Linked DNA regions of Homo sapiens. The protein of the gene in region 1 interacts with the protein of each later gene in a pairwise test. Each region holds a gene or a part of one and is shown in the gene's direction. Other genes may lie near its edges.

Region 1 (4,782 bases):
ATTTCAAAGACGCTTTAAAAGGCCAACGTGCTGTAGGATGTGTTTCCACATGTTGCTTAAGAATATAAGTATATTGAATTCTTATGTACTAATGACCAACATTATCACCTTGCAAACCTGGAGCGTCCAGACCTAACGTTACAAATAGAACATCACAGTGAACAATGCTGGAATTTCCTGTAGACCCTCCATTTAAGCTTGTGTTTTATCCATCAACTACATCTCACCTATTTCCTGTGGTCTAAGAGCTTTGTTAACTCTTATGCTGTCAAAACAGTCAGGTTTAGGGAAAATGTTTTTATCCACACTAGTATCCAAAGACCATGTCTTTGAATCGAAAGCTTCTTTTTGTCATCTCTTGAGTATGATGATAAAACAAGCAACTGAAAGTAACTACTTTTCCATATCTGTGTATCAAGCAAATTATTTTCCAGTTATTTTGGCAGGTATAGGGACTTAAAATAACCAAAATAATTTTCTTATGCAAATTGAAAGTCTGGATCCTAAAAGCAAATACAGACTTCCACAATATTTATAGTATCTGGTTCATGGTCTTTTTACACAAAAGATTCTGAAAGAAATGGCTTTACCTAGGTAAATATAAATCTTTCCTGGAAACCGTACACAGGGTTCTACCTAGCCAACTATCCTTTATTCATTTTCAGTGGAAATGGCTTTTTCGTGCCTTATGTATATGCTGTTGTTAAATATCTGCATGGTTATGTCTGTCTGGGAAGATATTTGATTACTTTTGTCCTAATTAATATTCTTGTGAAAGGATAGTGTGTATTTAGTAAGCTTTTAGGTAATGCTGATGACACTGGCTTTGCAATGCTGATGACCACCTTTGGAGAGCCACTGCTCTGAGGGAGCCTGGAATTAGTCATCTCTAAACCCAGCCCCCTTCAGGTCATCTCCCTTGAACTTATGACACATGGGTTGGGACATTTTCCCTAGAAAGGGCCAGAGGTGATCGTTTAGGCTTTGTGTGCAATTCTGTCTCTGCAGCAGCTTCCCACCTCTGCTGTTGTAGCAAGCACCAAAGCATCGAGAGATAATACCTACACAGTTGAGCGTGGCTGTGTGGCAGTAAAACAAACCAAAACAGGCGGTTGGCCAGATTTGGTTCTCTGGCTGTAGTTTGCCACCCCTAGATTAATATATCAGATGTGCCTCACCCTTAAATAAGAACCTTGAATTGTTCCTCCAGTAGATATCTTTACTTACCTCAGGTTTTTATTATTCCAGCTACAGAATTTCCAATTGGTGGCCAATACCTTTGTCCCATAGTTTTTTTTTTTTTTTTTTTTTTGGAGACGGAGTCTTGCTGTGTTGCCCAGGCTGGAGTGCAGTGGTATGATCTTGGCTCACCGCAAGCTCCGCCTCCCGGGTTCACACCATTCTCCTGCCTCAGCCTCCCGAGTAGCTGGGACTACAGGTGCCCACCACCACGCCCGGCTAATTTTTTTGTGCTTTTAGTAGAGATGGGGTTTCACCGTGTTAGCCAGGATGGTCTCGATCTCCTGACCTCGTGATCCGTCCACCTAGGACTCCCAAAGTGCTGGGATTACAGGCGTGAGCCACCGCACCCGGCCCTGTCCCATAGTTTTTTTATTTGAAATATTCAGAGTCTATTTTCTTTTTTCTCACTCTGTTACAAGTTAGTGGGCCTATGAGATAATGAGATATACAATCGTGTTGTAATAACATCAGCATACTTTGAAAATTAAATTTAGAAATTCATTTCTGAAAGCATGATTGACTCACATAGTTTTACCAGATCCTACTAAATAAGCAAAAGCTATAGACAGAATTCAACTTAATCACCTTTTAAAATTCATATTCACCAGGTGATTTCCATCATTTAGGAAGCAATAGGTCAGGGTTACTCAGCCTTGGCACTATTGACATTTTGGACTGAATAATTCTTTGTTATGGGGGGCTGTCCTGTGCATGTAAAGATGTTTAATAGCATCTCTGGCCTCTACCCACTAGGTGCCAGTAGTACCCCTCTAGCTGTAACAACCAAAAATGTGTTCAGTCAGTGCCCAATGTCCCTTGCTGGATAAAATCCCCATTGGAGAATCACTGCAATAGAGAGTTTAAGCAAAGGAAAGGTGGATTGATTTCTATTTTAGATCCTGACTGTGGCTTGTAGTCCCAAACATCAGAACTGCTCTCTGTGCTTAATCTTCTTCATATATATATATATATATATATATATATATATATATATATATAATTTTTATTTATTTATATATATAAAACGCTAAAAATCTCTTATCTCCTAGGCCCCTATTATCTGTATTAGTAGGGGTTTCTATGTGAATTTTTGGGGAGGCATATTGTATGCAAGTAAGTACACAATGCTAAGTTTTTCACTTAACAGTGACTTGTCATTTTCTTTTTAAAAAATCTATTGTTTGGTTTTCTTTTTGTTGCATGCTTGCTTTCTTTCACTTTTTATTTTTATTTTACATGCTGCTTCATCTGTCTTTAGTAGATAGAACAACTGTTTCTTCTGGTACATCGATTTTCCATCTAGATATACTAAAAGATCTGATTTGGAAAGCCCTTGCTTTATAGCTCTGCCTTGAAAAAACTATCCAACTCAGTGTTTCAGTATTGCTCTTTTGAAAAACAGGTGCCAGAGTGGGTCATCGCTCCTTGATGAGATACTACAAACAGCGATTTGGCTTGTCAAGAGCTGTGGCAGTTGCCAAAAATCGGAAGGCCGTGGGCCGAGTACTTCAGCAGTACAGAGCCCTGGGATGGACTGGCAGCACAGGTACATTGATCTTTACAACTACAGACCAGTCTGAGAACTTGTATTTCTAGAAGGGGTCTGGGGAAAGTTGTTTCCATTTATGTTGTCCATGTGGATTCTCTCTAGGGGAAACGTAACGTCTTGGCTCCAGGGACTTCCATTACCACTTGATATGTTTAAGGCAATAAGCCCAAAGTGCTATGACTTAGAAATTTCATATTCCTGGCACAGTGATTTTATATACCATTAACTTTTTCAGAAGATAATAGTTACAAAAAGAATTATTTAGTAATCACCAAAGGTTGAAATTATCCTGGAGGTTATGCAGAGGAATTAGATAGTATCCTAGTGGTTAATAGCTTGAGCTGTGGAGTCAGACGTGACTTATGTGATGTACTTAGAGGTTCTTATATGATGAACATGAGTAATTTAATTAATATAAGCTTCTGTTTCCTCATTTATAAAACAGAGATGATAGTAATAAGACCTACCTCTTAGAGTTGAGTGGGTTGAATGTCATGCATGTGTGATATAGTGCATGCCCATAGTCGAGGTTAGCTATCAGTCCCCTTTTTTGTAATTTTCCCATAGAAAATTTAGCAAAAGTTAGAAGAGTAAAGCATGCCACTGCAATTGTTGAGTTTTGAAACCTCATCAGTATGGTACTCTTTACATCTATTCTGATGTGTCTGCTGGATGAAGCTGGTTATATCCTTAGATCTTCAGGGAAAGCATCTATCCAACTGAGGACTGTGGAGAAAATAAGAGGCGGGCTGCCTTCTGATGGCCTGGGAAGCTCTAGGCAACTAAAATCCATTTGAAAAGGCACTGTGTTTATATGTGGTTTCCTTCACTGTGGCTGCTTGTGAGCTGTGTGGCCACTTGAATCTGGCAGAGACTTGACTTCATCTTACTCTTATCAGGAAGTATTGTCTGACTCGATATATAGCTTCTGCCTTTCTGATTAATGGGGCTTTACCTTTTGGGCTTATAAACTCTTCCAGATGATGAAAACTAAAGCTACTAATCCCAGATAAGTGTATATATACAAAAGTTCTGGTATGCAATTCTGGAGTCCACAGAGACCCCTGAGGCGCATGGCTTAGAGACCCCAAGTTAGCAACTCTGTTTTAAATACAAGAACCTAGTTACCCCAAACTAACCTTTTGAATTCTCTGCCAAGGTTGGATTTTCTCTGATCACAAATAACAGAACTTTGCCTAATTTCTTAACTGCCTTCCAATCATAGGAGCGGCTCTTATGCGAGAGCGAGACATGCAGTATGTCCAAAGGATGAAATCAAAATGGATGCTGAAGACAGGAATGAAGAACAATGCCACCAAGCAGATGCACTTTCGGGTCCAAGTGAGATTCTGAGAGTCTGCTGGGATTGAGCAATCATCTCCTGCCCAAGTTTCCTCCTTGCCCTGAGGACCAGTGAAAGACAGATCATAGGAGAGACCCTTTTGCTGCTACTTCATTCGTTCTGACCTAATAATAAAAGTTAGAACCATATGAGTTTTCAGATGTCGTTTTTGAATAGTGTTGAAAGGTTATGTTTTCACAAGGTAAGTCCTGTGTCTACTGGACCCTGGGACTTGCACTGCTGCCTGACAGTTGCTTCATCGCCTCAGCTTTAAATGATTTATGATTGTCAGAGTAATGTGAGGAATCAGGAATGACTTGTGTGCCCCAAACTTAGTTTAACTTTGAGAGTAACTCACCATGTCATGGCACTGGGACCTATGTAAGGGGGCTTGAAGGCTTATGTAGGGGCAAAGTTGAATGTCACTCATGGAATGTATCATGGTACAGGAGGTACTGAATATCTCTGGGCGCTTGCATTAAATCCAGGCTAAGTTAAAAAGCACATCAATAGCTTGCTGTAAAGGTTTTATATTTCTAAACATGACTGCACAGAGTGACTACTGTGTAGTCTGATGCAGTTTCCAGTGGTGCAGTTAGTCTAGGAGGAAAGTAAAGGTAAAATGCTTAGGTATCATTTTAGAAAGACT
Region 2 (9,068 bases), on another chromosome or scaffold:
GCAAGTAATAGAATAGCCCAAATAATATTGTTAAAAAATGCCCCCAATTTGTTGCTATCCTTTAAAATTTAACCATAAACGTCTTCTCATTATCCCAATTCCTTGCTCTTCTGAGAAGTTAAAGACCCCAATTATAGGCCGGGCGCGGTGGCTCACGCCTGTAATCCCAGCACTTTGGGAGGCCGAGGCAGATGGATTGTGAGGTCAGGAGTTCAAGACCAGCCTGGCCAAGATGGTGAAACCCCATCTTTACTAAAAATACAAAAAATTAGCCGGGCGTGGTGGCGCACACCTGTAATCCCAGCTACTTGGGAGGCTGAGGCAGAATTGCTTGAACTCAGAGGGCGGAGGTTGCAGTGAGCCGAGATTACGCCACTGCACTCCAGCCTGGGCAAGAGAGCAAGACTCCGTCTCAAAAACAAAAACAAAAACAAAACCCAATTATATATACCCCCAATTCTTCTATTTATTTAGTCAAGCCCAGAAGGGCACTCAGGTGTCTGATTGGGGTCTAATTTCCTTCTTCATTATTCACAGTTGAGAGGCTGTCTTCCGCGTTGACTGATAATATACCTCCTTCAGCAGCTACAAAGTTGGGTTACTCTGTTCTCAAGGCTTTTCTGTATTCTATATTAACAAACTCTAGAGGATAAACAGGGCACATGAGAATATTTAGAACCAGCTCCACATTCACAAAGATTTACAAATCAAGTATAATCTGCTATTAGTGTAGGAGTTTGTAATGTAAGCACCAGTTTTCTCACATTGCAGCAACAACGATATTCCCTTGATTCAGTAGCTATAATCTAGGCCCACATTGGTATTACTCATCCAAAGACATGATGTAATTTGAGAGAAGCGGGTAGATAGAGAAAATGGAAGAAAGAAAGAAAAAAAAAAGTGCATGGCTTCAGTCTTACCTTAGTTGTTAAATAAACAACTTGCCCATCTCTGCTAGTTTTCCAGAGGCCATGACTGGGATGTTTATAACTCTTTTGGGAGAAGTCTATTAAGTTAATTATGACACTCTTAAATCCCTAATCTGGGAAGTGAATTCCAGCATCTTACAAATTGCTTTCTCTTTCTGAGTGACAATTTGAAATAGCCCAGTCCTTTGCATGGAATGTAAACATGTGCATTCAGATTTATAGTCCAGTGTTCCTCCATTTCCATTCTCCTGCTCTCTTTTTTCTTCTGTATCAGGATTCCAAAGATTTCTGAGCCTTAGGTTGACCTCTATACTTTTACTGTTTTTATTGCCTTTTGGAATTTCTTAGTCCTATGGTTCCTGTTTGTTTTTAGGATGAGGTTCCAGTTTATCCCCACATTTGCCCCACTGACAAATGCCCTTTAAAATATTTCTGAATTAGTGTTGCTGTTTAAAGTATTTAATCCTGTGCCTTCAGGTGCCCAGTGAGAATAAATTTGTCCTCTGTGATATCTCCTTGCCTTGAGTAACTTTTTCTACTCCAGTGGAAGCAGAATGTTTCATTTTCTATCAACAGTTTTCCCTCAGTACTGGGACCTGACCTTGCTTCTTCTAATGTTTGCCTACTGTGTTCATGCAGATTTCGTTAGGTTAAATGTTCAACCTACTTATTAAGTTGGGTCCAGTGTGATCTCTTCCTAGGAAATGGCTTAATATTGTTTATTTTATCAGAATGTCGTTTTGCATGTTATCTTTTTGTGTGCTATTTCTGCTTTGATGTTGAAGACTGAACCTTGTTTTTTAAAGCTGATTTAATTTTTTTCTTGAGTGTCGATATTTTTCCTTCTAAAGCTTCTGCTCTAGTTTTCTATTCATTGACCAAATTTTTTTTGTTTGTTTTTGAGCTGGAGTCTCACTCCTGTCGTGCAGGCCAGAGTGCAGTGGCGTGATCGCGGGTCACTGCAACCTCCACCTCCTGGGTTCAAGCGATTCTCCTTCCTCAGCCTCCCTAGCAGCTGGGATTACAGGTGTGCATCACCACGCCCGGCTAATTTTTGTATTTTTAGTAGAGACGGGGTTTCTGCATGTTGGTCAGGCTGGTCTCGAACTCCTGACCTCAGGTGATCCACCTGCCTTGGCCTACCAAAGTGCTAGGATTACAGGCGGGAGCCATTGTGCCCAGCCGTTTTTTACTTGCTGATAATAATTTTCTTTTTCTCTCCAAGTAAAATGATTCATGGAATCAGTGTTTCAGGCATAGAAAAATGATATTTTTAAAATGTCCTTTGTGGCTTTTGGGGTTTTGATAAGTTCATTCAGAATTTTTTCCACCTCAATTTTAAGAAGACTACTCATCATTGTATGAAGGGCCTTCTCTTATTAAGCTCTGTCTTCCTTTATAAGCTCACCACACTTCTGAGGTTGAACTCACACTCTAGGTCTTCCAAATTCATGGCCATTATTAAGGCTTAGTAACATGCTAGTCACTCAGTTCTGGATAAGGGCAGGGTGAAGAACAGAGAATTTGAAGGTAGTTTACGTGGCACCTGCCACTCATCAGTTTGAGGCTTAAACAGGCTTGCTTGGCCAGGGCGATGGCTCACGCCTGTAATCCCAGCACTTTGGGAGGCCAAGGAGGGTGGATCACCTGAGGTCAGGAGTCTGAGACCAGCCTGGCCAACATGGCGAAACCCCATCCCTACTAAAAATACAAAAATTAGCCGGGTATGGTGTTGTTGTTCGCCTGTAGTCCCAGCTACTTGGGAGGCTGAGGCAGGAAAATAGCTTGAACCTGGGAGGCGCAGGTTGCAGTGAGCTGAGATCGCACTACTGCACTGCAGCCTGGGCACCAGAGCAAGACTCCATCTCAAACAAACAAACAAACTAGCCAGGAGTGGTGGCATGTGACTCCTGGCCTCAAGTGATCCACCCACCTCAGCCTGCCAAAGTGCTGGGATTACAGGCGTGAGCCACTGCACCTGGCCTCGACTAGATTTTAATTTTTAATTTTTATTTATTTTTTTGAGACACAGCTTCGCTTGTTACCCAGGCTGGAGTGCAGTGGCATGATCTCGGCTCACCGCAACCTCTGCTTCCCGGGTTCAAGTGATTCTCCTGCCTCAGCCTCCCTAGTAGCTGGGATTACAGGCATGGGCCACCACGCCTGGCTAATTTTTTATATTTTTAGTAGAGACGGGGTTTCTCCATGTTGGTCAGGCTGGTCTTGAACTCCCGACCTCAGGTGATCCGCCTGCCTCAGCCTCCCAAAGTGCCGGGATTACAAGTGTGAGCCACTGCGCCTGGCTGTTTTTTATTTTTAGTAGAGACAAGGTCTTGCTATATTGTCCTGGCTTGTCTTGAACTCCAGGCCTCAAGCAATCCTCCTGCCTTGACCTCCCAAATTGCTGGGATTACAGACATGAGCCACCATGCCCAGCTATCTTTACGCTTCTTCCTTTTGCCACTCCTAGCTGTAGGTTTGGTATGGGGAAGACCTTAGCTATCTATGTTTTCAACATTTCAAATATTTGTCTTTTGCTTTTAAGTCTTTACAACTGTTACTGATTTTGTATGGTGTGAGATAGAGATCCAATGTGTTTTTTTTTTTCCTTCACCTCATGGCTAATCAATTGTCCCAGCTCCAGAGCTGCATTTCCATCACCTGTTACCTCTAAAAGCAGCCTCAGTTCAGTACCTGTCAACTTTTACTTCCTCTAGGATCTTTGCACCTAAATTCCCTCTTTCTGGAATATTCTCCGTCTATTTCTTTGTGGGCTATGACTGTTAAGGCCTACAGACCAAAGACCACATCTGTAGTAAAAATCATTAGATGTATTTAGTTTGCTGCGCAAGAGAAACCATACTCTTGAGAATTTTGGGTAGTCTCAGAGTGAGTTGAAAGGGGCAGAATGAGGGAAGAATGAGGTGGGCCTGAGGATGTCATTGAAGACAATGAAGTCAGTCAAATAAAGGATCTTTATTTTAACAGCCTTGTATGGAAACATTGTTTATATGGTTATGTTCAGATTCTATTGAAACCATTGTTCAAGTTTTGATAGGAATATCACAGTCTGATTACTGGCAGGGCTGATTTTCTCAATTCTCATCCTTTGAATTAGAGCTTGGCTTAAATGTTACCTTCTCAGAAACCACTGTTGCTTATTTTTATTTCAGTATTTAGTATAGATAATAATAATAGTAATTATTATTTTTTGAGACAGAATCTTGCTTTGTCTCCCAGGCTGGAGTGCAGTGGCACGATCTTGGCTCACTGCAACCTCTGCCTCCTGGGTTCAAGCAATTCTCCTGCCTCAGCCTCCCGAGTAGCTGGGATTGCAGGCGCACACCACAAGGCCTGGCTAATTTATTTATATATTTATTTATTTATTTATTTTTGTGAGATGGAATTTCGCTCTTGTTGCCCAGGCTGGAGTGCAGTGGCACGATCTCGGCTCACTGCAACCTCCGTCTCCTGGGTTCAAGCAGTTCTCCTGCCTCAGCCTCCCGAGTAGCTGGGATTAGAGGCATGTGGCACCACACCTGGCTAATTTTGTATTTTTAGTAGAGACGGGGTTTCACCATGTTGGTCAGGCTGGTCTCGAACTCCCGACCTCAGGTGATCTGCCCGTCTTGGCCTCCCAAAGTGCTGGGATTACAGGCATGAGCCACCGCGCCCAGCCTAATTTTTATATTTTTTAGTAGAGACCGGGTTTTACTATGTTGGCCAGGCTGGTCCCGAACTCCTGACCTCGTGATCCGCCCACCCTGGCCTCCCAAAGTGCTGGGATTATAGGCGTGAGCCTCTGCACCCGGCCTATAAATTATAAGTATTAATTTGTTGTCTACTTATTTGCCTTTTGTCTTCTCCACTAGAATATACACTCCATGAGGGCAGAATCATATTTCTTCTCCATTATAGCCCTAGTGCCAAGGGCAGGTTTGGCATATCATAGGTGCTCAGTAAATATCTGTATGAATAAATGAATAAGAGCAAATTCAAGAGTTTTCTAGAACTGCATTAGCAGTTTTTCCAGACACACTGCTGATCTCTAAAAGTCAACCACGAGGTTATTTTCCACAAGTAAGATGGAGATGGTATGAGTGTGACTTTGTATATTAATGTGCATAACAGGGCCCTACTTAGCTCTATGGTTTTTAAAAAATAAACTACTTAATTTTAAAACTCAGGGAGACAAAATCAATAAGATCTACCTAATTTTTTTTACAACTAATTTTTATTTATTATTTGATGTATAATTAACAGTATATGTAACCCACATAAGTTGTGAAGCATAATAATAAAATACATATCATATACATAATAAAATTGTGTATGACTGGGGTCTTAGTTTGGGTTTTCCTGATGACTACTGATAATTTTTTCATGTCTTCTTTTTTTTTTTTTTTTTTTTTTATTTTGAGACAGAATCTCGCTCCGTTGCCCAGGCTGGAGTGCAGTGGCGTGATCTCGGCTCACTGCAACCTCTGCCTCCTGCCTCAGCCTCCCAAGTAGGTGGAACTACAGGCGCGTGCCACCACCCCTGGCTAATTTTTTATAGCTTTAGCAGAGACAGGGTTTTATGATGTTAGCCACAATGGTCTCCATTTCCTGACCTTGTGATCCACCCGCCTCGGCCTCCCAAAGTGTGGGGGTTACAGGCGTGAGCCACCGCACCCGGCCTTTTTTTTTGAGACGGAGTTTCACTCTTGTTGCCCGGGCTGGAGTGCAATGGCACAATCTCAGCTTACTGCAACCTCCGCCTCCCAGGTTCAAGTGATTCTCCTGTCTCACCCTCCCAAGTAGCTGGGATTACAGGCTCCTGCCACCATGCCTGGCTAATTTGTGTATTTTTAGTAGAGACGGGTTTCGTCATGTTGGTCAGGCTGGTCTCGAACCCTGACCTCAGGTGATCTACCCTCCTCAGCCTCCCAAAGTGCTGGGATTACAGGTGTGAGCCACCTTGCCCAGCTTCGTGTCTTTTTTTTTTAAATTATTTTTTCTTCAGGTAGCCTCCCGAGCCAGAGTAGGCTCAGAGACACCCTTTTCCATGTTTTTGTTGGCCATTTGTGTTTCTTTGAGAAATTTTTTTTTTTTTTTTTGAGACAAAGTCTGGCTGTTTCGCCCAGGCTAGAGTGCAATGGCACGATGTCGGCTCACTGCAACCTCCACCTCCCGGGTTCAAGCGATTCTCCTGCATCAGCCTCCCAAGTAGCTGGGATTACAGGTGAATGCCACCCCGCTTGGCTAATGTTTTGTATCTTTAGTAGAGATGGGGTTTCACCATGTTGGCCAGGCTGGTCTCGAACTCATGATCTCGTGATCTGCCTGCCTTGGCCTCCCAAAGTGCTGGGATTACAGGCGTAAGCCACCATGCCCGGCTGAGAAAAGTTTTTTGTATCATTTGCTTATTTTGCTGTTGAGTTTTTCTTATTGTTTTGTCAGAGTTTATGTGTTTCCTGTGTACATCCACTATTATATTTGTTGCAAGTATCTTCTCACATTTATGGTTTTCTTTTTTTGATGGTGTCTTTGGTTGTATAGAAGTGCTTAGTTTTATTTTTATTTTTTTTATAGATGTGGTCTTGCTATGTTGCCCAGGCTGGCCTCGAACTCCTGGGCTCAAGCTGTCCTCCCAAGTGGCTGACAACACACGCACCACTGTGCCCAGCTGAAGTTCTTAATTTTAATGTTGTTTAATATATTAATTTTTTTCATTATTATTATTAGTACTTTATTTAAGTGATCCTCTCCTATCCTGAAATAATGACAATATTCTTTAAAAAGTTTTAAAGGTTTATGTTTCATACTTTTTAAGTCTATCTGGAATTCATTTTTATGTATGGTGTGAGATAAGAATCCTTTTTTTCATATGGCCAATAATCAGTTTTTTCAGTATCATGTAAATGCATAAGACTTATTTAGATTTGCAGTTACAAGAATGGAGGAGATGATCCGGTATTATTTCCTTTATTGATTATGTACTCTCTGTCTTCTAGGTTCTTTTTCTAATTCCAAATAAACTTGCAAGAGGACTATGAAAGATTATGATGAACTTCTCAAATATTATGAATTACATGAAACTATTGGGACAGGTAATTGTTATTTTTTTTTGGAGGCAGTGGATAGATCAACTATTTGAGAGTATAGATTATTTGGGTAGGTGTGAGCTTTTTCGTCTAACCCACACAGTTTTAAAATTCTTCTACCTACTTCAGTAAGAAAAAGTGGAGCAAGCAGAGAGGAGAATAGTAGGAGAAGCCCTGTAGGTTATTGCAAGGACTTTGACTTTTATTCTAAATAATTTATTCTAAATATTTCTTTTATTTCTTTTTTTTTTTGAGACGGAGTCTCACTCTGTCGCCCAGGCTGGATGGAGTGCAGTGGCGCGATCTTGGCTCACTGCAAGCTCTGCCTCCCGGGTTCACGCCATTCTCCTGCCTCAGCCTCCCAAGTAGCTGGGACTACAGGCGCTCGCCATGCCTGGCTAATTTTTTGTATTTTTAGTAGAGACGGGGTTTCACCGTGTTAATCAGGATGGTCTCGATCTCCTGACCTCGTGATCCACCCGCCTCGGCCTCCCAAAGTGCTGGGATTACAGGCATGAGCCACCGCGCCCAGGCTTCTTTTATTTCTTGACTTTTATTCTAAATTAAAGTCATTGGAGAGTTTTGAGTTAAGGGGTAATTTGACCTTTGTTTTTACAGAGTTGCTGTGGCTGCTTGGTAGATAAAAGGTTGGATGAAGGAGGGCAAGAGCAGAGGCAGGGAGATGTTAGCAGACTATTGCGATAATTCAGGTGTTGATGCTAGAGATGATGGTGGTGTGGATGAGGGTGATGTAAAAGCAGTGAAAGGGGTGGGACATTTTACACACACATATGTACACACCTATGTGTGTATGTTTTTATTAAGGTATAACATATAGTAAAATATGCAAAGTGCAATAATCTCAGTGGAGTTTTACACATATATATGTATACACATACCCATATATTCCCTGTGCGGATCAAGACATAGACCGTTTCCAGGGAGTATCTGCCTGCTTTCCCCCAAGGTAGCCATTGATATATTTTGAGGACAGAGCTAATGGGATTTATTGATGGGTTGGAGTGCTAGAGAAAGAGAAGGGCTAAGGATGGTTCCAGGGTTTTTGGCCTGAGCACCAGGGAAAATGGAGTTGCCCTTTGTTGAAAGGAAGAAGACCATGGGAGAGACTACTAGGAAGTTCTTTTTGGAAATGTTAATTTGGGGATTTCTTTTAGCTGCCTGAGTGGAGACATTTGTCCAGCTTTTGGTTCAGTTTTGAAAAATAATTGCTTATCTTCAAAGTTTTTTTTTTTTTTTGGAGATGGAGTCTTGCTCTGTCGCCCAGGCTGGAGTGCAGTGGTGCGATCTCGGGTCACTGCAAGCTCCACCTCCTGGGTTCATGCCATTCTCCTGCCTCAGCCTCCCGAGTAGCTGGGACTACAGGTGCCCGCCACCATGCCAGGCTAATTTTTTGCATTTTTAGTAGAGACGGAGTTTCACTGTGTTAGCCAGGATGGTCTCGATCTCCTGACCTTGTGATCCGCCCGCCTCGGTCTCCCAAAGTGCTGGGATTACAGGCGTGAGCCACCGCGCCCGGCCTCAAATATTTAAAACTGAGTGGAAGTTTCATATAATTTGTCTTTGGCCTCAGCAACTTTATATTGTGTTCTAGCAGTGTTAATTATAAAGGAAATTTAATTGCAGGATTATTCATAAAGCAGATTTCTAAAGTGAGTTCTGTTTTTTTTTTATTACAAAGTTTGAGATACACTATCATGGTTAAAAAAAAAAAAACCTTCAGCTAGACATTGGATAACAAGCAGCAACAGGAAAAAAAAGCCACAAACTTCTAGGAAAATTTGGCTTGATAGAGTCTTTTAAAATTATTATATATAAAAAGGTGTTTGTGCCTGAGTCCTTGCTTATGCTTTCATAATACATTTTCCTACTTAGGTGGCTTTGCAAAGGTCAAACTTGCCTGCCATATCCTTACTGGAGAGATGGTAGCTATAAAAATCATGGATAAAAACACACTAGGGGTAAGTTTAGATTTATTTAAAAAATAGTCCACTTATAGATCAGTTTCGTGAATTAAAACCTGAATTGTTCTAAT

What was found.
Region 2: the proteins of ZNF622 (region 1) and MELK interact in a two-hybrid assay, tested with the Homo sapiens proteins (one study listed by BioGRID).

Annotation. Positions count from the first base shown.
Region 1 is NC_000005.10:16,451,019-16,455,800, reverse strand, and holds the end of ZNF622 (cytoplasmic 60S subunit biogenesis factor ZNF622), read left to right. Parts: intron 1-2,644; coding exon 2,645-2,788; intron 2,789-4,016; coding exon 4,017-4,144; 3' UTR 4,145-4,282; downstream 4,283-4,782. UniProt on the Homo sapiens protein: Pre-60S-associated cytoplasmic factor involved in the cytoplasmic maturation of the 60S subunit.
Region 2 is NC_000009.12:36,574,719-36,583,786, forward strand, and holds part of MELK (maternal embryonic leucine zipper kinase), read left to right. Parts: intron 1-5,354; exon of another isoform or gene 5,355-6,153; intron 6,154-6,925; 5' UTR 6,926-6,963; coding exon 6,964-7,021; intron 7,022-8,908; coding exon 8,909-8,994; intron 8,995-9,068. UniProt on the Homo sapiens protein: Serine/threonine-protein kinase involved in various processes such as cell cycle regulation, self-renewal of stem cells, apoptosis and splicing regulation. Has a broad substrate specificity; phosphorylates BCL2L14, CDC25B, MAP3K5/ASK1 and ZNF622.